Linked DNA regions of Homo sapiens: regions 1, 2, 3, 5 and 6 are each linked to region 4. The links come from fine-mapping of genetic effects on gene expression. A gene starts in region 4. Each other region holds a variant in brackets. All regions are shown on one strand. Distances are between the middles of the regions.

Region 1 (5,076 bases), 53 kb after region 4:
GCACATTGAGAGGTGGGATTGTGTCTCCTGCCTCCTCTGACAGTTCCACGGAGGCAGGCTCAGAGCTTTGCCCCAAGGCAGCCTGAAACAGTGACTATGGAGTAACGGGGCAATAGCAGGGGTAAAAGGAAGCTTCAGAAACTTTACCTTCGCTGGCAAAAATAGCTCTCCTAAGATCCATACTAGTTAGGAGAGAGGCTGAGGGGGTGGGGACTACTCTCTCGTTTGATTAGATGACCAATGAATTCTCTGTTGAGACAGCTGGGGCAGAGCCAAGATGAAGATTAGAAGCTCTGAAACAAAGAAGAAAAGGAGACAGGGAACTACAAGCAAAGCAATCAGAGAGGAAACAACTGGGAAGATTTTGTTGAGCACAAGTACTGTCTAGTGCAAAAGGTCTGAGTTACGGGAGACAGACACAGCAAATATAAACAGAAAATTAGAAAGCACTTGCTCTACCTGGCAAATTGATCATTTATATTTAGATTATAGTTGGGTCAGCCTGAGGCAATATGATGTGTATGAGGTACTAAAAAGCGTGCTTTGTATGTCTGGCTGGCTTTTCTATGCTCTTCCTATCCCCATCCTAGATTCCCAGTACCCTGGTGCTCTTTCCCTTCTCCTGACTAAGCAGAGAAGCTGATATCCTACTTCCCTCCCTTCTCTTCGCTTTCCTTCATATCCCTTCCCTTCCTCTCCCTTGTCCTTCCTTCCATTTTCTTCTTTCTTTCCTTCCCTTATCCCTCCCTTCCTTCCTTGCATGCAATTACTCAACCAGTATTTACCGAGCCACTTGCATCTCACTGTGGATGGGGAGCTCTGTGAACTGGAGAAAGATATGGAGATTTGGGGACAAGGACCACAGTCAGCTGCCAAACTCATGCCAGGAGAGTGGCCACCTACTTGCCAATTATATGTCATAATGAGTCTCCAATTATGGGAGGCCAAGGCTCATTTTGGCCACTATATTAAAATTGGTGAGTGATCAATTATTTCTACTTACTTGATAAGGCTTGTTTGTGAGAAACTCTGTAGACTTTATATCTACAACCAGATTCAGTTACTAAAAAATTATTCTGTTAAGGGAGGGGGTAATCAGAGCTAAAGAGTGGTTTGTAATCAGAATTACTTTTCTGTGAGTCAGTGGAAGTCAGATGGGGGTGAGGGAAAGAAAAGGTTCCAATGTTTAATTCTTCTACAATCTGTAGATGTGCTAAAAACAGTTCGTGTCCACCAATACTCATTCTTCCATTCATTCATTCAGCAAATATATGCCAGGTGCTTCTTATGTGCCAGGCACAATATATGTATCATAGATGCTAAGATGCTATTCTTGCCTAAAGGAGTGAAACAATGAGCATTTACAAGTATGTGCTAAGGCTTTACATTTTCTTGCCTAATCCTCACAATATCCCTGTGAAATGGATGCAATTATCATTTCCATTTTGTAGATGCTGAAACTGAAGTTCCAACATAAGAGAAAACACGAGAAGCCACACAAGAGAAGCCCTGCCAGTTTATTTGTCCATCAGTCCCTGGATTTCAGTTCAGGCACTTAGACTTTTAACCCCAGAATTTAGTATACATTTCAATAATTAAACATGAAGCCATTTCTTTACTCGTTTCATTCTTTAATGCTGAAATCCTGGCATCCTTCATTCCTAAATATAATACATGCCAGTATGTGGCAGGGGGTATTAGCTTACCAGAGCACCATTATCCCCCAAACCCTGTGCCAAGGAGGTCACTTTACATGGGCATACTTACTGGGACAGCCAGCCCATGCCTCATTTGAGCCTGGAGGTAACATCAGGAGAATGGACATCAGCAGTTTGAGATTTGCCTGCACCCGCTGAAGACCATGTGCTCTGGAGAGCTTGTCAGTGCTCCGTCTCAAATGAAAGCAGCAGAAGTTCCTGCTGCTGACAGCTGCAGCCTGAAATGTGCACAGCTTTGGAAATTGGCTCTGACCTCTTCCCCTTGACCACAGATCTCTGGCTATGCCTCCGGATATGAGCTGTATTATTTTACCTGCTCCCTCAGAGCTGGAAATATTTGCAAAAAAAATAAAAAATTAAGAAAAATTCTGAAAATAAAATTTTTTGTTGAAAAGCAGCCAAAAAACTGGAAGAGGCCAATTCTTCCAAGTCTGTCACAAGATCCATTATAAATAGGAAAGGAGCATCACATGCATATTGGGGACAATTAAAGCCCTCCCTGGGCAAGTCACTGTTGGAGTCATTAGTTTTTTCAGTTATTCTCGTATATATATATGAGAATATATATATATATATATGTTTGTGTGTGTGTGTGTGTGTGTGTGTGTGTGTATATATATATTTGACACAGAGTCTAGCTCTTGTCGCCCAGGCTGGAATGTAGTGGCACGATATTGGCTCACTGCAACCTCCACCTCCCAGGTTCAAGTGATTCTCCTGCCTCAGCCTCCCAAGTAGCTGGGATTACAGGCATCTACCACCACACCTGGCTAATTTTTGCATTTTTAGTAGAGAAGGGGTTTCACCATGTTGGCCATGTTAGTCTCGAACTCCTGACCTCAATTGATCCGCCCACCTCAGCCTCCCAAAGTGCTGGGATTACAAGCATGAGCCACTGTGCCCGACTTATATTTATTTTTTAAGTGTCCCCGCCTTAGTAAAACCCATTTGAAGACTGT[G/A]AAGACTGTGCATGTGTGTGTGCATGTGTGTGTGTGTGTGTGTGTGTGTGTGTGTGTGTATTGCACTATGTAGTTTGGGTTTGTTGTTCTTTGGAGTCTCAATGCACTTCTTACTCCTAAATAATAGTTCTTTCTGTGTTGGGAAGATAAGGACCTCAAGGCATAAGAGACAGAAGCAAAATTCCTGAGTCTGTCTCTTGTGCCCATCTGCTTGGTGTGGTCTCTTCGACTGTGTCCTGCTGGAAAGAGTGGCCTTTGAGTATGGCTCCTGAGCTTTCTGAACACTGAAGGAGGGATTATCCAGAGATTAACTAGGATGCTGGCTTTTTGGCCACCTTGTAAAGGCAACAACTGCAAACCACATTTAAAAGATAAGATTAAACCCACATGCAGAACTTCAACAACATAAATCTTACTCAGGAAGAAATGCCAAAAATGTTACAACAAAAATATTCTTGGCTAGCAAACTGTTGTTCTGTGGGACCAAACGCCCCTGGAGGAAGTTCCTGATCCTTCTAAAGGAAATGTGAATAGAGCTTTTCACTTTCCTGAAAATAGAATAGCTCCTAAAGCCAGGAAGCGCTTTTACCAGGCCATCTGTCTCCCCAGGTAACAAATTAACAAAAATCAGCATCCTTCATTACTGATTCCTTGTCAGTTGTTATTGACCACAGCAGGTAAGTGTAGCTACATGACAGGTAAGCACTGACAAATAGATTTGAGAATCACTGTATCAGAAAACCATACATGTTGTTTTTTAAGAGATTTCAGGTGAGGGAGTGGAACAAGAGGAATAGGCCTGAGGTGAATCAGATTAGGAAGTACAAGTCTGAAAGGCAAATTGTCCTGCTAAGCTCGGTGCGAGCCTTCCTCTGTTGCCATTCCTCGACTTGTTCTCTGAGATGGATATCATAAGGCTGTTGTTCCTACCTGTGTCTTTCCTCCAGTGCTCTCCTGGACGGCCGTGCGGGAAAGAGCAGTGGTGGCCACAAAACAAGAGAAGAATCCTGAGAAGATGTTGCTGATCCCAAAGGCAATGAATTCCTAAGGAAGAGACTGGATGACAACGATCCTACAAATTGAATCTTTGCAAGACCTTCGCTGAGTATTTCAGGAAGTACATTAAGAATGAAAACTCCCATGCCTACTCTGCGTGGTGGTCCAATTTAATTTTTACCGTGATAGGTACTTGGGGTCCTTGTACGACATCAGGAGTTTGGACGCCATACCATCTGAGAGAGGTCTCATTGCTCTCGATAATTTTTAAAGTTGACAAGAAATAGCACCTGATCATTTGCTAAGCTTTTTCACTGCCTAGTGAATGGAATGTCTGCAGCTCTCACATAAAGTGTTTTTCTGTGGTTGAATATTCACTATGAAGCATATTATGACTAGCAGTGCTGTTATTCTGCTTGATTACTAACCATTTAACTACTGTTATTGCTATACTGTATTTTCAGAAACATATAGATACAGAACTTGCAAATTTGCAAGCAGTGTGAAATCAGCTTACCTGGCAATGTATCACATGCCTACAAAAATTGCCTGTATATATTAACTGCACAGTGAACCACCTCAATTTAAAGTGGTCACAACTATTATTAATGTTTGTTGCACTGTTTTGTCACATTATAACTGCCGTTAAAAATAATTGCCAAGAGGTACTGGGTTACATGAAGAATTCTCTTTCTGACCTAATATGTTCACTTTGAATGTTATTTATGACCTGACTGAATTAGCTCTTTTAAAATTAGTGTTATTTCAACTTATTTCTTAAAAAAGCAAAGTGATGCAGTGTGTCTATTCCAAAATAATTTCTAATTAGCAAACACAAGAGGAAAACCAACCCAATAAGGTCTGGTGAAAGAATCCAACCCCTTCTTTAGCTGACACCAAAATCTTTTCCATTTATGTTTTTTTCCTGTTTCCAGCCCTATAAAACCAGTTCAGCAAAAGGGCACCCATACCTGGTTCCCATCGATGGTGTAATCATACTTGGTGGCATATACTTTTCCTACTGACACTGCAATAGCATAAGCCACCACAGCGATGGAAAATGATGCAGCCAGCATCTCCGAGAACAAGCTCACAGGTGGAAGTTCAGGAGGCAAAAACCTAGTGAGTTTTTAAGTGAAAAATGCTGTGAAGATTTGACCACCATCCTTTTTCCCCATCTCATCAAATGCTATATCTGCTCAGTCACATATTAGACATGAAAGTACTTGATCCAAAAGAACAAAAAGCACACGAAATACATACATGATAGTAGCAGCTTTTATAATGTTTAATCAGAAGTTGGTGTTATCTTACTGGCTGATTTCTTTGTCCTCTATTTTTGAGCCTAGCCATGCTGACTCTTCTCTATCTCTCACATGAATAAATCTGCTGTTACTGATTCT
Region 2 (5,076 bases), 410 kb before region 4:
ATTTCTGATTTCAAACAAAGTTTTCAGTGTTCACCATTAAGGATGATGTTTACTTTAGGTTTCTTGTTGCTACCCTTAATCAGGTTAATGAAGATACATTCTATTCCTAATGTTAGGAATAAAAATACATTCTATTCCTAATGTTTTTATCATGAATGGGTGTTGAGTTTTTTCATATACCTCTTTCTAAATTTACTGAGATTATCATATTTTTATTTTCTTCTGCTAAAATAATGAATTATATGAATTGATGTTTTAATGCTAAAATAAGCCTGCATTCTTGGAATAAACCCAACCTGGATATGAAATATTATCTTTTTCATAGATTGCTAAATTTGGTTTGGTCATGGTTTGTTTGGGGTTTTTTCATCTATGTTCATGAATGAGATTAGCCTGTAGTTTGACTTTCTTAAAGCATTCTTATTGGTTTTGGATATCAATGTTATACTAGCCTCAAAAAATGATTAAAGGAGTGGTTCTCATGACATATTCAAACTTTAATATCTCAAAATGGAACCATTGATTTTCCCCTCCCAACATGCTCCACTCCATAGTAACAGTACTTCCAAGCTTCCTGTTGCTCAAACCAAAAATCCTGGCACCATCTTTTTCTCTGTTATTCCATGTCTAACCTATCAGAAAATCCTGTTGGCTCTACCTTCAAAATATGTTCATAATCTGAGCATTTTATACCACCTCCAGTGTTCCACTCTGGTCCAAGTCACAGTCATCTCACTCCTGGATTATTGTAATATTCTCCCCTGACTCTATAGAGCAGAGGTTGGCCAACTAAATATTTTAGACTTTACAGGCCGCGCGGTCTCTGCTGCAACTCTGCAATTCTGCTATTGTAGTGCTAAAGCAGCCATAGACATTATGTGATAAATGGGCGTGGCCTAATTTTACTGTAGTTTACCAACCCCAGCCCTCTAAGGTAGGCTATTCTCAACACTGATGGCAGAGTAGTGCTTTTAAAATATAAGTCAGAGCATGTCACTTATTCTTTGAAACCCTCCCAGGGCTTCCTGTCTCACTCAGAGTTAAAGGCAGCGTCCTTACAATGTTCCACAAGCCCTGATTTAGCCGTGCCACTCCCCTTACTTAACTCCTACTTTTCTCTCTCTCTCTCTCCCTCCCCCCAGCCACACCAAGCTCCTTAGTGTTCCTAGAACCTGCCAGGCTTCCCCTCACCCCGAGACATTTATACTGCTTGTTACTCCTGCAGGAACTGCTCTCCCTCCAACTATTCACCTTGCTAACTCAACTCTTTTAAAGTTGTTGACCAGATATTACTGCTTGATGAGGTCTTCCTGGACATCTTATTAAATGCCAGCTCTCCATCCCTTCTCCAACACCTTCTGCAGTCTTTACTCAGCTCTATACTTTGCATAGTGCTAATCCTCTTCTGACATAATATATATGTAATTTTTTTTATTATGTTGATTGTTAATTGTATTTTCTTCCACTAGAAATAAAGCCAGTGAGGTGAGGGTTTTAGTCTGTTTTGTTTGCTGCTATATTCCCAGTGCCGAGAACAATCTATCTTAGAGTAGTCACTCAATAAACATTTATTGGATGAAGGCATGGGTGGATAGATGGCTAGACCAAAGAAATGCCACAGATGACAAATTTCCAGCAGTGTATTCCTTGGGACACTAGTTCTACAGAGCAGAATAAGACTAGTCATTGGAATCCAGGTGACAAATTCTGCCTGTTATTGAACTCTTCAGCTGAATTAACTGTCACACTGAAACATGAACTATATTTCACAAGAAGGATTTAATAATTAAACCCCAGAGATGTTGTGTAGGCTATTTTCATAACAGGTTAGACACTCAATGCTATGTCCTCTGAAATGCTCACAAACACAGACCACCCCAAGATGATACCTCTCCAGTTGTTTATTAGCAGTGGTGAAAATATAGTTTATTCAGTTTGCAATAAGAAATTGTGTATTACTGAAACAGGTTGTTTTCAGTGGCATATGCCAGTGTCATATTATGCTAGCATTATTTCCCAGTCTTCAGATTTTCTTCTTGGAGAAAAATTGAAATCCCTAGTAAAAGTTATTGTCAAAAGAGCCAGGATACTTGTGCATCTTGAAATGTTTGTATCTTGGCTTGAAAAAAAAAGTCACTGTCTGAAACAGAGGGAGCAGTAAAGTCTTAGCAGAAATTGCTAGATTAAATACTGCAGCCAGTGATACCTTTTGTATGTTAAGGCTTTTTCATTTTTACATTAGTAAAAATGTATATGTTTCCTATTTTGCCTTGCATTTTTGTTCTTTGAAAGAAAACAAAATGTTAGATCCTGTCATTGCCTTTTTCTATTTTTTTCCCAAATGTTACCTATTAAAAAATAGGTCAATATGCATAACTAGGTATTTGACCGTATGGGTGAACATTCAAAAACATAATGATTACTCTTTGTCTTCCAGAAATTGTGCTTACGGGTTCAACAGAGAAATAAGCAAAAATTGTAATAATGGAATCTTGTAAAGTCGTATTAAAGTACACTCCTCAGATTCCCATCCAGTATAGTCAGGCTGCATAACACACAAGGAAGAAGGGAGCTGGGGGGTTAACATGAGTGTAGGAAGCATTTGCTATTACATGTTTGGAGTCATTCACATTCTTTAGAATATATTGGCATGCCATTCATAGTACAAATGTAGAGCTTTTAAGTTAAAGTGCGTCTCTTTCCAGATTAATAAATCTTTACTCATTAACTAAAATTTTTACCAAAAAAACAAAAAAATACTGTGTACTATCAGTATAAGGATTTTGCTTTTCTTCTTAGGCTGTTTTCATTTGTTTCTTCTGCATCCTTTTAATGGAATTTTGTAGGTCTCTTGAAAGGTAAGGTTGAAGTTTACAGTCTGGCCTGCATTGATAACAAAATTATTTGAAATGCAGGATTTTGCTTCTCCTTCTGGCTCAGAAAAAAAAAATCCACATTTCACACTTAACCAAAATCATGCTCCATTCACAACCAAGGAATCAGAGATATTATGCAGTTTAACATACTAACTTCTTTACTTGCCATAAGCTTTTGCCTTTTTGAATTCAAAATAGTGATGATTTTTCTACTTTTCTGAATT[C/A]TTTCTTATTTAATGCTTGTGATTATTTCTGGATTGCTTTCAACTCAGGAATCAGAATTTGTCATTGAAATTAACAAACACTATTGGGAGCCATCCACTCTACTGAAGACTTCATGATTCAACCATTTCTGCTCCTGATTTCCATTCCAACTCATCCTCGTCATTGGAGTCAACCTGAAAATTAGATTTGGCCAGAGAAGCCCAGGACTCCAAATGCTTTCTCATAATTTGCATGCATGGTCTTTAAAAACAGAAAATGTTACCTAAATGCCAATCTTGACAAAAATGTTTTCTCTTTCTTCCAGTGATGCAGAAGACCACAAGCCTTTGAAAAAAGGAAGTCGAACTCCTTCAGACAGGACTGTGAAAAAAGAAGATAGTGACGACAGCCTAGTTGACTATGGAGAAGGGGTTAATGGCCAGTTCAATGAGGATGGCTCCTTTATTGGACAATACAGTGGTAAGAAAGAGAAAGAGCCGGCTGAAGGAAACGAAAGCTCAGAGGCACCTTCTCCTGTCAACGCCATGAATTCCTTTGTTTAATTTTTAAGCTCTTTGCCAATATTCCATTTCTCTAGAATGTTTATCCTAAGCACTTGTTTGTCAGCCCTCTCATACTATGAACATATGGGTAGAGAGTATATTTTCTGCTGTATGTTAGTATTATGAGAATAGTTACAGCAAAAACATAACTCAGTCAAATGATATGTTAATATGAACTGGAATGCAAAGTGCATACTTTTTCATTCAAAATGGGTATTCTTGATTTCCTCAGAACTGATAAAAAATAATGCAACATCACCAACAGATCCTGTTATTTCCTCTGCAGGATACAGTTCAATATGATGCATGAAAAATGCTCCACATTTAAAGGACATACCCGTGTATGTTATGAAAACATGGTTTGATACTTTGTTTATACTACCCTCAGCTGAACCCCTATATATGAATTCCGTTTTCATTGTCAAGAATGTTACTGTAGTATTCTCTAGAACTTCAATGTCTTTGTGGACATTGTTGTGAAATTGGTGACTATGTATAGCTGTCGTTAGTCTTTTTGGGAGACTGTTAGGAACAGTTTGTACAGTATATACTTGCTAAATGAGTTCATTATGACAGTCACATTGCTGATGCTTACTGAGAACTATTACCTACTCTTGGCTCCTGTTACTCCGTAGGCTTCTTAATCTTCCAGGCATTACAGCAGCACAGTGTTCTACTTTTTACATCATTTCTATGTTCGGTTGTTTTTAGGCATAAACAATGTGTATTGCAGTGCATTTCGGCATTTGTGCCATACTGAAAGAATCAAAAACAAATCATCCAAATTAAATTTCAAACATTATTTCAGAGAACACAGGGCAAGACACATACAGTGCCTTCAGATATTAAGCATTCCACAACATCGTGCATTCTGTATCAGCTGGTCCAGTCCATTCTGGGTCCTAGATTACTGTCATTGTCTAAAAGTAACTTTTAAAAAGCAGAGTTCATGAAAACTGCAATGCTGGGAAAAGAAGGAAACATGAAAATAAAAATAAGACAGTTTATTAGAAATAGCATTTCCTCATAAGCATAAAAAGAAAATCTTTGTTGCCAACTGAAGCACATGATGATTTTGTGGTCCTTTATGGTTTCTATTACATTCAGTAAGAAAGATGTCAACATGCTAGAAAATTAATTTTAAAACTAAGTTATTCCAACACTAAAAGCATACAACAGCATGCCAACAGTAATATATTATTCTCCAAGACTTTACCTATGTAAGTGTTCAAAACTCTGCAGCATTAAACAACGTGTATGCAAATTGTTATGGATACATTTCAGAATCTAAGAAATCAGGCAAGTGCTTAAAAGGCCAACGGTCCAAGGGATTACATCTGCAGTTTAAAAAGTAAATATATATTCTATCGTATTCATAAACAATATCTATCAAATGGGTTACCTCCAAATATGAAAATCTATAACAACCTATG
Region 3 (5,076 bases), 470 kb after region 4:
TATACATTAATGTTTGAAAGTTAAGCACACATATTTCACTAGTATATATGTATGCTAATTGAAATCCAAACAAAATGAGACTTCAATATTTTTTTTTTACCATTATTGATATACTAATTTTAGACAGTGTGTCAAAATCTGATTGTCTCCACTATCTTTAGAATGTTAGCTAACTACGTTTTCAGTTTATCCTCTCTAACCATTCCCGGTTGAAATACCATAATAAACAAAATAATCTACTTTTATCTATATCCAAGTTGTTTCAGTTTGTTCTGTGATAATTTTTAGGGTAAGTTGGTGACATACTGAAGGATTTACATAAAATGATCCTTGGAGGTAACAGTCATGTTACGAGGCTTCCTTCTTTTAGTTCCCATGGATGGCCAGATTTTGTTTGCAAATATGGTACTATTTTCATTCAATTGATCTTGTAGTCTTGACAAAATCATCTTAGAAGCATCTTTTTAAGAACTTTATTGAAAACTAACCATACAGAGATATAGAAGCTCTTTGTAGGAAATTACTATGAATTTAGATTACTAATTTTTCTCTCAATCTTTGTTTAAATCTTTTTTATAATGTTCACTGCTTCAAAAACATGGTTATTGCTATAAATAAAATTCAGTGTTATATCTAGTAGAGTATAGTGTAATTACTGACAATGCTAAGATCTGAAGATAACACTGTAAGAAAGATCCAGCATGTATATAGAAAATACCTTGCATTGAGAGTAGGGAGGGACAGTGGTAATGGTAATATGTACTTCAGTTAACATAGTAATGGCAAAAGGCTTAGACGAAATCAAAATATCTGCAAACATTTCACTGAGTTGATACTGTTGATCAAATTGTCAGTGGCTGTAAATTACTTAGGCCTATCTAATGTACCTGCAGTGTTGAAGGCTAACAGAAAATCATTGTCATTTTTTGGTTTTTAATTGGATTATATCTTTTTTTATTAAAAATAGTTTTATTTTTCAACTTTCATTTTAGTGTATAAGGGAAGCTTAAGCATTAAATAAGATTATAAAAAACATCATATGCCTTATTTTTAAAAATATATTATTGACTAATGTCTTAAGTAACAACTTGCTGTTAATGTTTGTTTCTTGGCATTTAATAACACTCTTCTACCCCTCAATGTGCTAAAATTATACCTGTTTTGTTCTTTAATCTTTACAAATATTCCTATTTTTTTAGAATAATTTGACTGAAAACATTTAGAGGAAAATAGCCAAATTGTAAGTCTTTAGTGGAAGAAAGACTTGAAACAGATTTTTGAATTGGATAACTACTCTGCCTATAAATGGAAGTATTGACTTGAGATTTGGTATGAAAACTAAATCAATGAGTAGGAGATTCTTTTCAAAGATGAAAAATTTAAGCTTCCAGTCCACAAGATTAAGAAATGACAGAATCTGTTGTTTCCTGACTTTTTAATGATCGCCATTCTGACTGGCATGAGATGGTATCTCATTGTGGTTTTGATCTGCATTTCTCTAATGACCAGTGATGATTAGCTTTTTTTCATATGTTTGTTGGCCACATATATGTCTTCTTTTGAGAAGTGTCTGTTCAGACCCTTTGCCCACTTTTTGATGGGGTTGTTTGTTTTTCTCTTGTAAATTTGTTTAAGTTCTTTGTAGGTTCTGGATATTATCCCTTTGTCAGATGGATAGATTGCAAAACTTTTCTCCCATTCTGTAGGTTGCCTGTGCACTCCGATGATAGTTTCTTTGGCTATGCAGAAGCTCTTTAGTTTAATTAGATCCCATTTGTCAATTTTGGCTTTTGTTGCCATTGCTTTTGGTGTTTTAGTCATGAAGTCTTTGCCCATGCCTGTGTCCTGAATGGTATTGCCTAGGTTTTCTTCTAGGGTTTTTATGGTTTTAGGTCTTACATTTAAGTCTTTAATCCATCTTGAGTTAATTTTTGTATAAGGGGTAAGGAAGGGGTCTAGTTTCAGTTTTCTGCATATGGTTAGCCAGTTTTCCCAACACCATTTATTATATAGGGAATCCTTTCCCCATTGCTTGTTTTTGTCAGGTTTGTGAAAGATCAGATGGTTGTAG[A/G]TGTGTGACGTTATTTCTGCAGCCATAAAAAAAGATGAGTTCATGTCCTTTGCAGGGACATGGATGAAGCTGAAAACCATCATTCTCAGCAAACAAACACAGGAACAGAAAACCAAACACTGCATATTCTCACCCATAAGTGGGAGTTGACCAATGAGAACACGTGGACACAGAGAGGGGAACATCACACACCGGGGCCTGTTGGCGGGTGGGAGGTAGGGGAGGGACAGCATTAGGAGAAATACCTAATGTAGATGAGAGGTTGATGGGTGCAGCAAACCACCATGGCACGTGTATACCTATGTAACAAATCTGCACGTTCTGCACATGTATCTCAGAACTTAAAGTATAATAAAAAAGAAAAGAACAGAAACGAAGGAAGAAAGGAAGGAAGGGAAGGAAGGAAGGGAAATCAGATCATTAATAGAATGCTCAAGCAGTGAGATAAAGGAAAGCTAGAATTTTAAAGATAAGCATGTTTTCAGAAAGAGTGACTTGCAAATACAACCTGAAATGTACATCGAACAGCTTTTCATAATCTGAAATGTATTTCCCTAAAGATTGGTTATAGAAGTCTCTTGGCTACTGAAACGTTTTAGTATACTTAGTTATAGATTTTATTCATATCAGGAGAAAGGCTTATAAAAGGTTTTTTCAAGCTGATTTTTAATATTCTGGGGTATAGTAGATTATAACATTAAATTACATATAGAGTGCGTTATATACTTATAATAATACATCTGAAATTATTTTTATGATTACGTATTTTTTTCCCTAAGGCTTTTCTGTTACTAATCACCAAAGGTATGTGTTATACAAACCTAAATCTCTGTAAGGATAAATCCTTCAGTCCTTCTGAATCCAAAGCGATACCAGAGAATTTATTTTTAAGAGTGAGGTTGGGCCACAAAAATAACTACCATCATTAACCTTTATAGTGAATCAGGAATTGTGCCAAGCCATTTATATATATTATTTCATTTATTTCACAACAATCCTATGAAATGAAAGTATTACTGTCCACCACTACAAAATGTAGAAATTGAAGCTGAGAACAGTTAATAGCATGAGTAATATAGACTACTAAAATTAGAATGCCTGGGAGCAGGTGTTGGCACTAGCATTCAAATCCAGACCAGACTGTAAAACAAGCTTGTCCAACTCGCCTTATTTTTCACTGTTGTTGTTCTCTTGTTTTTTTTAGGCTTTTAGCAGCCTGAAGCCATGGTTTTTAGTTTCTATCTCTAGTGCTAAGCAGAAACGTATAATGAGTAAGGGGCTTTACTGGCCTAACCAGAAACAGAAACTAAGAACCCACGACTGTATTCTCTCCCATGTTCACCTCTGCACCAACCTTTAATACTTTATTTCTGATCTGTAGCTTGTATATAAACATAACATCTTTTTTATTTAAGAAAAGTTGCATTGTGTTATACATATTGTTTTGTGAATTGCTCATTCATTTTACAATATATCAAGATCTACATTTACTATGTTAATACGTGCATAATATATTTTATTTATGTGTAGAATAGTTTATTTTACTTCTGTGCTCTTAATGTATAGTTAGATGATTTCATAGTTTAATTTTGAAATAATAGGGATTTAGCATTGATGCTTCACATCTGAGTTCTAAGCAATAGGCTTTAGTTCCTGCAATATGTGTTTAACTTAGTATGGGTCATGTGAATATCAGCTTTCTAGATGCTCTTTTGTAAAACTGAGATCAAGGTTTTTTAGATTTTCATTTAAAAATTCTTGTTTGTCTTGACAGCAATTGTGAGGTTATAATTAATTTACTAAGAATTTTATGTTTCAAATACACATATACCTATAGGTGTAATATCATAATATTTTATGATTAAACTGAACAAATTATTTAATGGTGATATATTGGGGATTTGTTTGTATAGTCTGAAATGTGACCTTTAGAAGAAAAGGTCACTAGACCTTACAGTGGAAAGTTTGGGGTTTTTTGTTTGTTTTTGAGATGGTCTCACTCTGTTGGCCAGCCTGAAGTACAGTGGCATGATCATGGCTCATTGCAACCTCTGCCTCCCAGGCTCAAGGTATCCTCCCGCTTCAGCCTCTGGGCATGCCAGCATGCCTAGCTAATTTTCTTATTTTTTGTAGCGATGGAGGGTCTCGCCACATTACTCAGGCTGGTCTCGAACTCCTGGGCTCAAATGATCCATAGCCTTGGCCTTCTGAAGTACTGGGATTACAGGTGTGAGCCACTGTACCTAGCCACAATGGAAAGTTTGAATTAGTGTTTTTCTTATCCTCTGTGTGTTAAAAGAAAACTAAAATATTAGTACATAAGGGAACTGTTGTGGCACCTTTAAAATTTATAGGCTTGTAAACTTTTTTGATATCAACTTTGGAGGCAAATATATTAATAAGTATCCCTTTTAAAAACTGAAGGGTATTTTCCAACAGTAACCATTATTTGATGGTTCCAGGGAATGGCATCTAGAATCTTAGTGTAAATGGCAAATGTTATGAACTGTGAGAAAGGAGATTGGCATTTAATCAGGTTGCAGACCATTTGAAACAATAATAGGAATGACATTTAAGGGGAGGTCTCAACTTCAATGCAGATCAGTAGCTATGTATGAGGTCAATAGTTCTAGACACTAAGGTTTTATTTTAAGGCTTTGTAAATATACACTTTATTCTTTATATAATTTTATAAGTTGGAGACTTGACATTCCTATGATGGAAAAAAACATACATGTGTGATATTTAAATGGTATAGAGACATATGAGCTCAAATATGAGTTCAATTTTTTTTTTTTAAGTTCTAAAAGTATTGGCCAGGTATGGTGGCTCATGCCTATAATCCCAGCACTTTGAGAGGCTGAGGTGGGCAGATCACCTCAGGTCAGAAGTTCAAGACCAGCCTGACCAAAATGGTGAAACCTCATCTCTACTAAAAGTACAAAAATTAGTCAGGTGTGGTGGCGCGCCAGGAGAATCGCATGAACCCAGGAGGCGGAGGTTGC
Region 4 (5,076 bases):
TTCGGTATGATCATAAAATGGGTCATTTTTGCATAATGTTCAAGGGTTTCATCTGTTTCCCCAAGGACCTCTTAATCCTTTAATATTACAATTATTCTTTTGAGATGCCTATCCTGTCATGATTCTTCAATTATCTAGCTAAGTGGCATTTCCTCATTTGTCAAAGCCTTTGTGATTTAAACAATTATCAAATTCATGTTTACGAATTTCATGAAAACCAGAATCTTCTACAAGGTTTATAATTTTATTTCACAATCAGTGCACAGTATTTGATACTGTCTTCTGATACTAAACATCAAAGAGATTGATTCATTTAAAAAAAATAAAATAGGTAAGAAGCTAGTGTTAAGCAGAAGGGACATCTGAGAGGGAACTAATTTTTTAAGTGGTCAGCTCATTCGTGAGTATTTTCATGTTAAGATGAGTTTTACTTCCTTAGGCAATCTCTAAACTTCAAGAATTAAGATAATAAACACTCTTTACACTCACCCCTATTATGATTTCCTAACATAATAGCCTCTAAACTATGGCAGGAACTTGACTCATAATTCCAGTAGTGGGCTCAAATAAGAATTACTTTCCTAAAGTTGAATGTTTGCTATTCTAACATCAAAATCCCAGTTTCAACTCTATAAATTCCCAAACACTGGAATTCTTTACAGCCTCGTTCTAGGCCGGCTTCTCCTCTGAACACACCCTTCTTAAGTGGTCTCATCTGTCCTCATGCTTTAAAATACCAGCTATAAATAAAGGTACTAACTTCCAAATACGTATTTTCAGTGCAGATCTTTCCTCTCATCTCCACTTGGCATCTCTCCTGTGTCTCAGTAGTTATCTCACACTAGCAGTCCAAGACCAAACACTTGTTCCCAAATTCCCGTCTCACCTCTACAAAAAAAGATTGTTTTCTGCCCCAAGTTTTCCTCAGCTCAATAATGGACCCTACCTAGTTGCTCAAACCAAAAGCCTAGGCATTTCTCCTTTCTCTCACATTCCTTCAAACACCACCAGAGTATTTACTGAAGCTGCCCATTCTCCTTCATTTTCACCAAACCAACCTTCCCTTCCCGTCTACTGCAATCAGCTATTTTCCATCATTCTTACCTCCCTCTCTTACACCATTCTTCATAGAACAGCCTATTGTATTTTTTAAGAGACTGTGTTCCTCCTCCACTTCTGTTCAATGGCTTCATATTCACTTAAATTAAAATTCAAACGTTTACCACGGCTTTCAATGACCTGAATGATGTGCCTGCTGCCCTCCTTTCCAATCTCACTTCAGGACTCCTACCCTCTGGCTATTAGGAGGCTGCAGCTGACTTCACTGTATCTTCCTACCTCAGTGCCTTCGCACTTGCTGGAAATGCTCTTCCTCTTGCTTTTTTCCCAGGGCTGGGTTCTTCTCATCCATCAGATCTTAGCTTCCACAAAGACCATTCCTAACAACCCTCTCTGAAATTTCGTCCTATGAATCTCTCCACAGCACTCGTTTATTTTCTTCAAAATAATCCGCAAACATTAAAAAAATAATAAATTTAAAAAAAAAGAACGTATTGTCTGTGTTCCTCCATAAAACAGAAGTTCTATCACGGACCTGGTCCGTCTCGTTTACCATTCCATCTTCCATCTCCCGACCTATAGATATCTGCATGTATCTTGCATAAATAAACATACACACCTACATAAATAAACATACACACCTAATTATATAACCAAGTAGATATCTGATGAGTGAGGACAACTCAATACTCAAGAAAAAGCCTTTTTTTCTCTATTTGTGATACGGTCGCTATAAATGTATGGGGCACATAACTCCAAGAGCACTCATTCAATATCCAAGAACCACAAAGAAGCAAAAGCCAGAAAATACATAACAAAGGGTGGAGCCACTCTTACTTGGAGAAAAGTATGAGAATGCCTTGATTTTAAACTCCTCTTTGTAAATACCCTCAAATGATGAGTAAGGACCTCAGCCGAAGCGCGGGGCATGCTTTTGGTTTAGGTAGAAAAACTGCTCCGAGTTTGATTCCAAAAACTCTATCAGACTCCCTTCTTTCACCCCTCTAGTCCATAAAGGATCGGAGAGACGACAGGGGGTGACCACTGCAGCACCCGCCCAAAGCTGACTGAGACAGCAGGAAGTCTCCAACCCATTCTCGCCCGTCCACTCCCAGCGTAAAGAGGATTCCGCGACTCGGAGACCGCAATCTACCCGCCAGTCTCCATAACGTAGGCCAGAGCAGCTGGGCTAAATAAAACAGAGCCGGGGCTCTCCCTTCCCGAAGGCCTACATCGCCCACTGGTCCGGGCTCGGAGCTCAGCAGAACCAGAGTAGGAGCGGTTGTTGCCGGCACGGAGGAGGTAGGTACCACACCAGACGGTAGGCCAGGAAACCGCAGGCCCCTGCCGGGCACAGGAAGGCATCTGTGAGATTTCTTCTCACTGCCACACCCTAGTGTTGTGGGGCGAGCATAATCCCTTTTGCCTGCTGTGCGACCAGCCCCAGGCCGGCCAAGGGGGCTTGGAACCGGGACCCCCACTGCCTCCGCCTCCTTACCAGTGTGATCCATGATTCGGCTCGCAGAGCACAGTGGGAGCGGAAGTCAACCGCGCCGGAGTCGCAGCGAGCGCGTGCGCACTGCCTTCCGGAGGCCGGGAGGCGGAAGTCCAAGCAGGTTGTCCCAATTTTGGCCTGCAAAGACTTCCTTCTCTCGCCTCTACTATCCAACTCCTGTGAGGGACTCAGGCATAGTTCGGGCGGAGGCAGAAAGAGCGAGCGCGCGAAGAACTTCGGTATTGAGGTTGCTAAGGCTTCTCCTCATGTGCTTCAAGAGAAAGTAGCCTTTAACTGTGGAAAGGACACCAGGGGGACCGGGGAAGGGGAGAGCAGTGGTAAAAATGAGCCAGAAGCAGATAAGGCGACTGCCCGCCCCGCGGAGAGCTGCCTTCTGGGACTTGTAGTGCGCGGGGCCCCCGGAGCCGGCTGGCTGCGCAGGCTCGGCCGTTGCGCTGGCCCCACCCCGGCGGGCGGAGTAACGGTTTGGAATCCCCCGGGGTCAGCGAGCGCTTGTTTCCTCCGCCTGGTGTAGCAAAAGTGTAAACACGCGCGCTCCGGAAGGCGCCCTCCAGTGGGAGGTTGCTCAGGGGATGGCGGAGCTGTGAAACTCGGAGCTAGAAGGAAAGTCTCAACGCTTGTCTAAATTTTGCTTTGTCGTGACGAGCTACCTAGACCCACGCAGAGCTAACTTGGTATATGCCCCGGTTCCCATCTCTTAAGTCTCTTTACAGTTGAAACACGTTTATAATGCTTGACTGCCACTCACTTTCTAGGGAGAGCGCTTGTGACGCTACGAACCTCTCGAACACCTGACGACTGGGCGCCAGGGCCGGATGGAGGGTGGAGAGCCAGTGCGGCGCAGCTGCCTCCTCTTAACGGGGACACCTTGCAGGAATGTGCGGAGTGGAGCTAACGGGAGCGGATAGAAACCGAGGGAGGGGAAGAGAGCGCGAAGGCTTGGCCGGAAGGAGAGGTTAAAAAGGAAAGGCCTAAAATGAGGAAGAGAGTTACCACAACAAGCAGTACCTAGTTCCAGTTCTTGGTCCCAGGAGTTTGTGGTTGTTGCTGCTTTCATCTTCCTCAGCCAACACAAAAGGAAAGTGCCAAGGGGCGATTCCTAGGACCTTCAGTGCAGTCTCCACCTTGCGGACTTGGCTCATTTGTGTCCACTCCTTTCTCCAGCCTTTTACACTTGATGCTCTTGGATGAATAGAAAGGAGCACAATTAATGGAAAACACAAGCTTGGGAGTCAAGGGATTTGGGTTCTATTCTTGTCCTCCCTTGGTGACGACATCATTACCTTGGGTTATTCAAGCTTTCAGTGCCAGAGTTCCTATATCAATAAAAGATTATTACATTGACCTCTTAGAGAAATGTTTTCATGGTACTGAATTGCAAATAAAGTATGTGTAGCGATGTGTTATATCTTTGTAGTTGTACGGTATTATTTGTGAATCATGCTGTGATGATCAGTGCGATTTAAGTGCACCATGTTATTTGGTGATTATTTTCCTGAGATCTTGTAAAAGATTTTTCTGCTCTATATATGCAGCTTTATAAACAAGTTTTTAGGTACATTCACAACTAAGGACATTTGTGAATCAAAATTACCCCTGCTTTTTTTAAATGTAAAGTTCTGTATTGCTAGGTGGTTTTCAAGATGCTTTCAGTTTCTGGGATTATTGTTTTGGGCATTGGGGCTTGCCTAACCTTTTTCCCATACCTCCCTATTTTTCTAAATACAGTGTTGATATAGTCAGGCATTTTTCACCAATTTGGGTTTTTTTTTTTTTTTTAAGTTTTCACTTAGAAAGTACTTCTTTTTCATATTAAAAAAATTTTTTTTAGAGATGGGGCAGCCCAAACTGGAACACAATGGCAGAATCATAGCTCACTGCATCCTTGGACTCCCGGGCTCAAGGGGTCCTTATGCCTCAGCCTCCGGAGTAGTTGGGACTACAGATGCTCATCACCACCACTGGCTTTGATTTTTTTGTTCTATCATACTTAGCCTATCAGCTAACGGTTAACCTTCAGATTCATGGAAATCCAGGTTCAGAATAGTATTATTAATGTCTGCTGATGCTAATATTTAAATAATTAGAATTAAAAAGAGCTTTCAAATTGTATTTTATATAATTTAACCTGTAAGTTAGAAGTTTTGTTGGCATTTTATGGTGCATCAAGAAAATTTACTGAGAGAAGATGTACTTACTTTAGATCTGATAAAATGTTAAACATTTGTTTGATTTGATTTGACATCTCTTACTTTCAGGCATTGCTTTAGCATCTGTGGTCTGTATTTACCCCCTTAATTGTGGTTGCCTTGAATTACCAATGCAGTAGCAGTGTGATAAATTAATTTCTTTACCTATGTTTTATTACTGCCCTCTAGTATCTCTTTTCAGCGACCAGCGTGCTGTAACCAGTCACAATTTCTTTATCAAGAGTTGCCATTAATATTTATTTATAGAGCATAAGGTTTATATTGCTTATATATAAGCTATATATAGTTTAG
Region 5 (5,076 bases), 25 kb after region 4:
TTCCCTCTGCCTGAAAACTTTTTCCCCAGATCTGTACATGCCAATTCCTTCCTTAAATGTTACCTCTTTAGAGAGTGTGCTATTCTTATCATTCTCTATTATTGCCCTCCATTTGTCGCCTTCAGTCTCTACCTCCTTATAATGGCTATGGCTATGTAAGTAGTCATTATATATTTATTGGTATGTTTACTTCTTTACTGATCATCTCCCACGTTAGACTATAAGTTCCGTGAGAATAGCAACTGTCTTTTTTTTTTTTAACCATTCCCTGGATACCCAGCCCCTAGTTCTGTGTCTATTACAAAGTAGGTGCACATTAAACATTTGATGAATGAATGAATGAGGAACTAATGGAAAAATCTAATACTTTGGGGTAGGAATGCAGATGGGCAGAGGAAGATGAAACTAAAAAGAGAAACTAGCCTCAACTATTTAAGCAGGCAAATTTGGCCTGCATATTGTTTCTCCCCTGAGTGTAAGTTTTTATCCCATGCCTCCTTACACCATGTGGCTGGCTCTGCCTCTGGTTAGGCCAGCCACTTATTATGCAGAAGAAGGGCTGGGGAGAAAGAAGAGCAGAGCATCACTCCCACACTTTCAAGCCCTTTAATTCTTTGGGAGAAGATGGCAGTAAGCACAGAATGCTCATTTGCCACAGCTTGTATTTTGTTGTAAACATTTAATAACGGGTTTAAACAGAAATATTGAGCAATCACTCCTTGCTTTGTTTTAGGGACCAAAAGTTTCTTTATTACAAGCAAGTAAAATCAGAAGAAACAATGACTCTCACATAGAAACAGTAACATGTTTATAAGGAAATGTTAACTCCACAATCTCAAATCAATATCTATTTCTACCTATATGTTTTTAAATAGCACATATTTCTTTTTCTACCATAAAAGTAGTGCTTCATGTAATTATAAATAATAGAATACTAAAATTATCTTTAAAGGATAGGCTATGAAAATAAAAATCACATCCATGGAACAAGCCTTTTATTTCTAAATCACAAAAGCTAGTATGTCTGCTTTCATCTCTTACTCCCTTTGGAAACAAAAAACAAAAGCCTCATTCATCTCCACTTTAATTTCACCTTCTGAATTTATTTCTAGATACCTAGATCACCTGATTGGATTAGCGAGGTAATGTAACCCAGCCATTTGTCTTTATCTCTTACCACACTGGAGGATAAAACCTAGGCTCCTTTATGTAGTATATAAGGCTTCTCGTTAGCTGGCCCCAGGTCATCTTCCAGCCTCATTTCTTACCACCTTCTTCCCTTACTCACTTAACTGGGAACTTACTGGAGACAGGTCATGGGCTCATGTGTGTGTTCTAAAGGTCTGGCCCTCTCTTACTCAACCAAATACTTCCAGGTCAGGGAATAGAAAGATGTCCAGACCTCCTTCTTTTGTATATGGCATAGGCTTAAAGGAATGGGTTAAATGATCCTGCTGTGCTGGTTTACTACAAATCGATGAGCTAGGAAGTGAATGCAACTGGAGAGAGTAGGCTTCACTACTTTGGTCAACATGCGGAAATAAGAACCGTCCTCAAGTGTTAGGCAGTGCCACTAGTTTGCAAATGCCTTGACAAGAATCATACCTGATCTTTCTTGTGAAGAGTCTCTCCCAGCTTGCAGTACTGGCTGGCCAAGGACTTGTAAAATTCTTTAACATCTAAAAGGTGACCTTTACATGCTCCCCAGTATCACCTAGAGCTCCTCCATGGCTGAGGTGGCTGTGGGCAAAAATGAAATTGCAGAGAAAGAGTATGTCCTCATTGGAGGCTCACCAGAAGTCATTGCAAATGAATTCTACAACAGAATATTCAGTGTTCAACTTACCCTGATTGTAGGAAGTCTAATATCAGAGCTATTCCTCTAATTCAGAATGTCTTTGTTCAGCCATAAGTCTGGGAATGGTGTCAGAAGAAGAGGTATATCTGCACTTGGAGTGCATTTTTAAAAGGGTCCCCAGAAGGAGTCTTGTGCTGATGGCATAGTTAAACTTCTTGATTGTGATGGTGTTTACACAAAGCTATACATGGGATAAAATTGCATAGAGTGCCCCAACACACACACACACACACACACACACACACACACGTCCATGTATAACTGGTGAAATGTGAATAAGGTCTATGGTTTATACCAATGCCAATTT[C/T]GTGTTGTTTTTTTAAATTGTACTGTAGCTAGGCAAGATGTTAACATTGTGGGAGCCTGGGTGAGGGGTGCATGGGAATCTTGCCATATATTTCTTTGCAAATTCCTGTGAATTTATAATTATTTCAAAATAAAAAGTTTTAAAGGAGCTGGAAGGGGACTCAGAGTATTGGAGCACTTGATCTAAAACAATGCTTTGGGAATCACCTTGAAACTAGAAGACCTTATGCAAAAACAGCACCTCAATGTTCACGCCCAAAAATGTTCCTGAAGAAAAGGATGAAGTGGGCTGACTTGGTTGGCATATTCAAAATGGATATAGACATTAAAGGGCCTTTAATTCCCTGAAGCTCTGCTAACATACAAGTGAATTCCCAGGCCATTTTCTGGAGACCAATAGGTAAGGCAGACAGGCAAGCAGGTGAGCTGTCACAGTAAGTCTTTGGAATAGGCCTGCAAGCTCAGGAAACTCTGAATGTCTTATGTACTTAATGACTGCCATTCTCAAATTATGTTAACCTTACTCAGCATCACTGACTTTAGCTTAATGCATTCATCTGAGAGTATTTATTGCACCTCTACCGTGTGTCTGACACTCTTTACTCTTCTGAATACTTGGTATATGTCCAGGAACAAAATAAAGAACCCTGCCTTGGTGAAGCTTATGTTCTAGTATAAGCGAGGCGGCAGGAAGAGAAACAGTAATAAGTGAATTACACAGCATACTAGAAGCTGATATTAATGAAAAGAGCTGGGTAAGGGGGACCAAGAATTCAGGAGATGGTGTGGCATGTGGGGGAGGGAGTGTTGCTCACTTCTCTGAGTTCTCGAAGGATATGATTATATTGAAATCAATCCTCTATTTGGATTTTATTTTCCCATTATGAAATTCTCTACGCCACCATTCCTTTCTTCTTCTTAGTCTTTCTCTTCCTTCCACCTTTTATTTTACCTTCGTCTTTTCTTTCTTCCGTTAATTTTCCCTTTCTTATTTCTCTTCCTTCCCTAATTGTCATTCTTTTTCTCTGTGGTTCTCTTACCTTTTTCTCCCTTACTTTCCCCTCTGAACTTCCTTTCCTTCTCCCCTCATTGTTTCTACTTTTTCTCTCTTCCACTCTTTTTCTAGGTATTTGTCATTATGTGACTTTCTTACAGAACTGAACTTCATGTGATTTAACTAAAGTTTGTGTGGTTTTTGTTACACTGTTAAATTGTTTGCATGATAAATGCTACTCTAACTGAAACCAAACTTTCTTCAGATACCTAACCTGATGCAAATGGAAAATAACCCTAATTTCATTGATTCTCACCTCACAGATCTAAGCCCCAGATAGAGGAACCCCACCCCACCAAATATTTCTGGAATGTGCAAGGATGCCTCACAAGAATGTTCATAGTAGCACTATTCATGAGAGCCCAAAACTGGAAACGACACAAATATCCACAAACTGTAGGATGAATACATAAGTGGTGGTAAATTCTACAATGGAATGAATACTATACAGCAGGGAGAATGAATGAATGATTGCTATATTGAATAAGATGGATGAATCTCTTGATTATAATGTTGAGTGAAAGAGGACAGACACAAAAGAAAGGGGGAAAAAAGAAATAATCTTTGATTCCATTTCTATGCAATTCAAAAAAAACAGATTTTAAAAGTCAGGACAGTAATTGCCCTTTGGGGCAACCAACTAAGAGGGAGCATGAAGAGTTTATGTGGTGCCGGTGGCATTCTGCTGCTTGATCTGGGCACAGGCCACCCTTGTGTGCTTGTTTTGTGAAAATTCTTCAAGCAGTACACTGTGATTTGTATCCTTTTTTACATATGTTGTGCCAGAATGAAAAGTTTGCTTAAAATAATAATAACCATTGCACAAAATAAACTGGAAATATTTGGATAAGAATCACAAGGTTTAACTGTGATATTTGTGAGTAATGTTGTTTATTGCACTGATAAATCTACACAAAGGAATTATAAACAGAAGTGGTGCTATAAAGAATGCCTCATAATGATGACTGATAAGAGCAATGACAAACTTAGAATGAAGTATTTTTATTATATTTTATTTATTTATTTATAGAAACAGGGTCTTGCTGTGTTGCCCAGGCTGAGACTCTAACTCCTGGGCTCAAGGGACCCTTCCACCTCAGGCTTCCAAGTAGCTGAGACTACAAGGGCATGCACCACTGCTCCTGGCACATTCTTTATTATATTTAATAGTTTTGTTCAGAAAGGACACATCCGAGTAGTTTAAAAGACAACTTTACATTTATTTTTAAATGTGTGCAAATATTTTCAAATGTACATGATTTGATTTTTTAATTTGTTAAAACTCATATACAATACTGGAATCTTATCCTATAGGTTAAAAATATAACAAAAGGCAGCTTTAATTTCAAGTGAAATTTTCATTGATAATACAAAACTAAAATTATGCTTACTATTCACAAAATACATAGAAGAGACAGTATTCCCGCAGTTTGCTGACTTATGTCATCACAAATGAACCCAGAATTTACAAACTCTAGCCTTGTTGTAAAACGTAACTTTGGCATTTCCTTCAAAAAAGTGAGCAGTGCATATTTCCTTTATTGAACAAAGGTATTCATTCATTTTCTGCAAGACTATTACATTCACTCTTTTTTTTTTTTTTTTTTTTTTTTTGAGACGGAGTCTTGCTCTGTCGCCCAGGCTGGAGTGCAGTGGCACGACCTCGGCTCACTGCAAGCTCCGCCTCCCGGGTTCACGCCATTCTCCTGCCTTAGCCTCCCAAATAGCTGGGACTACAGGCGCCCGCCAGCCACCACGCTAGGCTAATTTCTTTTTTTCTATTTTTAGTAGAGACGGGGTTTTACCATGTTAGCCAGGATGGTCTCGATCTCCTGACCTCGTGATCCACCCGCCTCGG
Region 6 (5,061 bases), 25 kb before region 4:
ACAAGTGAAACTGTTCCCTAAGGAAGATATACTTTTCTTTTTAACAGATTTTGCAAGAATTTATCAGGATCAAGGTAGATGTGTATATCGTTGGAACTGATGGTAAGTGGCTTTATTTTTGTTTTATGTTCTGACAATCACTTCAGGCTCACTGCCAACTCTCAGTCTAGACAGCCTCTCCAAAGAATGAGTATTTTATATAATCATGATGAAAATCTAATATGCAGCCAGCCCAATAAAAATCCCTATGGAAACAGCATCTTTGTATTTTAGTTATGTTGATATGTAATTAAATACATTCTACAATTTGAATCCTGATTTCATAGGCAACAAAGGAGGAACATGTTAACTATTTTTCACTCTAAACTTCCTGAAAAGGTAGCCTTGTTTTCTGTCTCTCTTCCTCCCTTCCCTTGCACAATCCAGCCCATAACAATTTGGTTGAGCTTCACCTGCTGATGAGACCATCCTTGCCAAGGTTATCAGCGATGTCCAGATTGTTAGGATTAACGGCCTTCATCTCAGGTCCTTCTGCAGCAGCTTACCTGAGCATCTGGCACTCTCTCTAGCATTTGTCTTTGAAACTCTCTCCCTCCCTGACTCTGGCAGGACAGTTCTTATTCACCTCCTACCTCTCAAACATCTCCTCAGGGTCTGACATTGGTTCTTCTCCCACTTTCAGTCTCCCCCAAGCTTCAACCGTACACTCTATACCATAGTTCTAATTCCACAGACTCTTTCTAGTCAATTTCCTACATGTTTATGATTTCATGTGCATCTACTTGTTAATGAATCCCCAAACTATACCTCCAGCCCAGGCCTTTCTTCTAAGCTGCAGACCAATGGACTCGACTGTGGATGTCCCCAGGCACCTCAGATACACGCTTTTAGAACTACGTATATGATTCCCCCTCCCAAAAATACTTCTTTCCTATCACAATCACTGCATCACTGCTTACCTAGTTTTCCAGATAGAAACCCTGAAACCATCACCAATTTCTGCTCTCCTTCCCTCTAGTCAATGACCAGGTCCTATAAATATTTCCTCTTAAATCAGTCTCTTCCTCTCCATTTCCAGAACTTTAATCTAGACCCTTCTCACTTCTCAACTAGGCCTTCTAGAAGGACTTTCTAACTAATATCCTTGCCCATCCCTATAATGCTCTCCCATCCCATTTTCTGAAAGAAGCCTTCTTCAGGAATTTTTCCGACAATAACTGAAAACATCCTTGCTTCCCCAGGCAGAGCACCGGGTCTTCAGACTGTTTGTATCTACAGAGTACGCACGTATCACATAATTTTGCAGTTCAGTTTCTGTCCCTACTAGACTATATCTCTTCCAGGGCAGGTATTGTTCCTGCTTACCTTCTTCCTGTCTCTTCCCTAGATCCTAGGACATGATGGGCATTCAGTAAAGACTTATTGAATACCTACTATTTATCAGGCACAGTTCTGGGTGCTGGGAATATAGCAGTGAATCTGACAAGCCTCTGTCCTCATGAAGCTTATAGTCTCATAGAAAAGCCACATAATAAACAAACAAAAGCATATTTCAGGTAGTGATAAGTGCTAAGAGAAAAGCAGAGTTAAGAAACAGAGGCTGGGAGCGGTGGCTCATGCCTGTAATCTTAGCACTCCAGAAAGCTGAGGCAGGCAGATCACTTAAGCCCCAGCGTTTGAGACTAGCCTGGGCAACATGGTGAAACCTCGTCTCTAAAAAAAAAAAAAAATGTTAGCTGGGTGTGGTGGCATGTGCCTGTAGTCCCAGCTACTCAGGAGGTTGAGATGGAAGGATCGCTTGAGCCTGGGAGGTCAAGGCTGCGGTAAGCTGTGATCGTGCCACTGCACACTAGCCTGGGTGACAGAGCAAGACCCTGTCTCAAATCAAAAAAAAAAAAAAAAAAAAAAAAAAAAAAAAAAAAAAAAAAAAAAAAAAAAAAAAAAAAAAAAAAAAAAAAACCCCTTTTTTTTTTTAAAAAAAAAAAAAAAAAAAAAAAAAAAAGAAAGAAAAGAAAGAGAGAAAGAAAGAAAGAGAAAGAAGAAAGAAGAAAGACGAAATAAGAAAGAAAGAAAGAAAAAAGAGAGAAAGAAAAAGAAAGAAAAGAGAAAGAAAGAAAGAAAGAAAGAAAGAAAGAAAGAAAGAAAGAAAGAAAGAGAAAAAAGGAAGGAAGGAAGGGAGGGAGGGAGGCAGAAAGAAAAACTGGTGATCAGGGATGTCCAGCAATATGACATTTTGAGTACAGACTAGAACGAAGTGAGGCAGTCAACCTTGACAGTACTTAGGGGGAGCTTTTTAGGGAGAGGAGACAAGTGGTACACATATCCTTCGAAAAGTATAAAATTGGCATCCTTAATCTCTCCCTTTCTACTGGATCCTGTCCCTAAAATATACAGACATATTCTAGTTTCAAGACTTTTAAAAAAAACTTTTAAGTTCAGGGGTACACATGCAGGTTTGTTACATAGGTAAACTCGTGTCATGGGGGTTTATTGTATAGATTATTTTGTCACCCAGATATTAAGCCTAG[C/T]ACCCATTAGTTACTTTTCCTGATCCTTTCCTTCCTCCCACCCTTCACCCTCCGATAGGCCCCAGTGTGGGTTGTTCCCCTCCATGTGTCCATACGTTCTCATCATTTAGCTCCCACTTATAAGTGAGAATATGCAGTATTTGGTTTTCTGTTCCTGCATTACTTTGCTAAGGATAATGGCCTCCAACTCCATGTACCTGCAAAGGATATTGTTTTTTTTTAATTTTTTTATATGTTTTTATATAGTATTCCACGGTGTATATGTACCACATTTTCTTTATCCAGTCTATCACTGATGGGCATTTGAGTCCATGTCTTTGCTATTGTGAATAGTGCAGCAATCAATGTATGCATGCATGCGTCTTTATAAAAGAATGATTTATATTCCTTTGGGTATATATCCAGTAATGGAATTGCTGGGTCAAATGGTATTTTTGTCTTCAGCCCTGTGAGGAATCGCCACACTGTGCTTATACACTGTTGGTGGGAGTGAAAATTAGTTCAACCATTGTCAAGGCTTCCTTATAATTAAAAACATCCCCTTGATCCCAGAAACCTTTAATTTACTAACAATTTTACCCTTTCCTCATCATCCCAGATATTTTGGAAAGTATCTGTTCCTGCTGTCTCTGCTGCCTGGCATTCTTTTCAGTCTTTATCAAAGATTATCACCTTCCTTCCCATTGCATGCCACCCACTCCATCCCAGATCCTGGTGGCCACAATGCCCTCCACGCTCCCTCTCCCTCTGTCACTGAAAGCTTTCTGTAAACAGAAGAATCCATCTTCATAACTGTGTACCTTCTCTTCCTCCACTTTTCTGCAAATCCTAGGCACGTTTAGACGGTATCTGCTCAAGTTTTCCCAGATACCCACCAAGAGGAAAATTTCTCAGAATTTTCATAGTACATGATCTATATCTCTCTCATATATTCAACAAAAAATATGAAGACATACTATGTGCTGGGAATTTTTTTAAAACTAAGAAAACAATAAAGGAAAAAAACTAGATTGCTCCTTTCCCTCATTATTATACCACACGTTTTCTGTCAGTACTACAGGAATATATAAATGTTCTATCTTCCTTGAGGGCAAGATTCAGGTCTAATTTATCTTTTGATCTTTCTTATTACTCAGCCAGAGTTTTGCACATGGCAGACATAAGGTAATAGTTGGTTGAGTCATCTATGTAAATGAATGCTGCTTAGTGCCTACAAAAATGGGATTTCTCAAAGATGATTAGAGAGGTAAGTGGTAAGGAAGATGTTTTCCCATAAAACCCAGCAGCTTTGGGAAAATGGGCTACAATAAAGAACCACAGCATATCACTGGTCCATAAACATATGTTCCATTTTGGCAGAATCCCAAACTTTAATAAGAAGCCACACTTGATACTCTAATCATTAAGCAGGGAGATCAATTCACTAGGCTCCTGCCTAAATGAATTTTCTTCTAGGAACTACTGTTTTTCATTTGCTCCTTTGCCTTCCTCCTTTTTACATTAGGGCATTAAATTTTTTTTATTAGAAAGGTATTTGTTAGTTCCAAAAGACATTGTACTAAAGATAGACTGGTATTATACCACTGCAACCCACACACACTTAACCAAATGTCAATGAAACGCACATTTGCAAATGGAAGGTGAAATTACTAGCCTCAAGGGGAAACCGGTAGCCAAACAATTGTTTCTTCCTAAAAGTTACTGTTTTTTTCTCTTCAGATGACTTCATTGAGAAGCTTAACCGGTATGAATTTTTTGATGGTGAAGTGAAAAGCTCAATATTTTTCTTAACAATCCATGATGCTGTTTTGCATATTTTGATGAAGAAAGATTACAGTACTTCAAAGTTTAATCCCAGTCAGGTATCAGCTCTTTGGTGACTTTCACAATTGCATAAGCAGCCATCTGCACTCCTTAAATTTCTCTTTTTCAACATTAAAAAAAATCAGCCCCTAATCCATATTTCCATTCTCTTTTTCTCAGGAAAAAGATGGAAAAATTGATTTTACCATAAATACAAATGGAGGATTACGTAATCGGGTATATGAGGTAAGATTCTTCAACAGGTTTATCTTCACCTAGACATCACAGCAAAAAAAAACCTTCAAAGTAGTGAGGCCACTTCCTGCATGTGGCAGAAAGTCCAGCACTTGCTTGAGCCTCTGTGCCTCATCCCTAGAAAACTGAAGCAATGCTAACCAATCTCACAGGGAGTTTTCAGGAAAAGAAACTCAGACCCGTACAAAAACAGGATGAAAAAATAGTGATAATAGATCTCCATTAATGCAATATTGAGCATATCTTCTTTTGTTTTTCAAACCACTTACAACAATGCTCTTATTCTGGCCCTGTAATAATCCACGTAGCAGGGAAGGTATTGCTCTTTCCATTTACAGGTGAATTAGCAATGAAAATGATAAGCTAATACACACCTCCCAATAGCCAGATGCTTGAGAAGTCCCTAGCACAGTGCCCAGTCAAGCAATGAAACAAGTTTCTATCCTTCCTTACTAGAGTGAGTTGCCAATTCAGC

The links. PIP is the estimated chance that this variant, and not a neighbour inherited with it, causes the effect.
Region 1: its variant is fine-mapped to the expression of CBLL1-AS1 in tibial artery (GTEx, PIP 0.92).
Region 2: its variant is fine-mapped to the expression of CBLL1-AS1 in whole blood (INTERVAL, PIP above 0.99).
Region 3: its variant is fine-mapped to the expression of CBLL1-AS1 in whole blood (INTERVAL, PIP 0.98).
Region 5: its variant is fine-mapped to the expression of CBLL1-AS1 in aorta (GTEx, PIP above 0.99).
Region 6: its variant is fine-mapped to the expression of CBLL1-AS1 in whole blood (TOPMed, PIP 0.98).

What each region holds. Positions count from the first base shown.
Region 1 is chr7:107,688,769-107,693,844 of GRCh38, reverse strand. It overlaps SLC26A4 (solute carrier family 26 member 4), which reads right to left. Exons shown (of 21, transcript NM_000441.2): 9 at 4,645-4,792; 10 at 3,608-3,721. Among named protein-coding and RNA genes, the nearest start is that of SLC26A4-AS1, 30 kb to the right of the region's middle. The variant G/A (reference allele first, on the strand shown) is at 2,678.
Region 2 is chr7:108,148,477-108,153,552 of GRCh38, reverse strand. NRCAM (neuronal cell adhesion molecule) reads left to right here. Exons shown (of 33, transcript NM_001037132.4): 33 at 3,406-5,076. The coding sequence ends at 3,643. Among named protein-coding and RNA genes, the nearest start is that of LAMB4, 21 kb to the right of the region's middle. The variant C/A (reference allele first, on the strand shown) is at 3,101.
Region 3 is chr7:107,275,633-107,280,708 of GRCh38, reverse strand. The region is part of intron 14 of COG5 (component of oligomeric golgi complex 5); the gene reads left to right. Among named protein-coding and RNA genes, the nearest start is that of HBP1, 110 kb to the right of the region's middle. The variant A/G (reference allele first, on the strand shown) is at 2,072.
Region 4 is chr7:107,741,658-107,746,733 of GRCh38, reverse strand. It overlaps CBLL1-AS1 (CBLL1 antisense RNA 1), which reads left to right and starts at 2,153. Exons shown (of 2, transcript NR_144537.1): 1 at 2,153-2,361; 2 at 3,331-3,981. It overlaps CBLL1 (Cbl proto-oncogene like 1), which reads right to left and starts at 2,592. Exons shown (of 6, transcript NM_024814.4): 1 at 2,558-2,592. The coding sequence starts at 2,570. RefSeq lists enhancers at 2,118-2,297, 2,648-2,867, 2,965-3,483, 3,484-4,003 and a silencer at 2,908-3,107.
Region 5 is chr7:107,717,122-107,722,197 of GRCh38, reverse strand. SLC26A4 (solute carrier family 26 member 4) reads right to left here. Exons shown (of 21, transcript NM_000441.2): 21 at 4,389-5,076. Among named protein-coding and RNA genes, the nearest start is that of CBLL1, 24 kb to the left of the region's middle. The variant C/T (reference allele first, on the strand shown) is at 2,166.
Region 6 is chr7:107,767,095-107,772,155 of GRCh38, reverse strand. SLC26A3 (solute carrier family 26 member 3) reads left to right here. Exons shown (of 21, transcript NM_000111.3): 18 at 48-102; 19 at 4,248-4,390; 20 at 4,512-4,577. Among named protein-coding and RNA genes, the nearest start is that of CBLL1-AS1, 25 kb to the right of the region's middle. The variant C/T (reference allele first, on the strand shown) is at 2,529.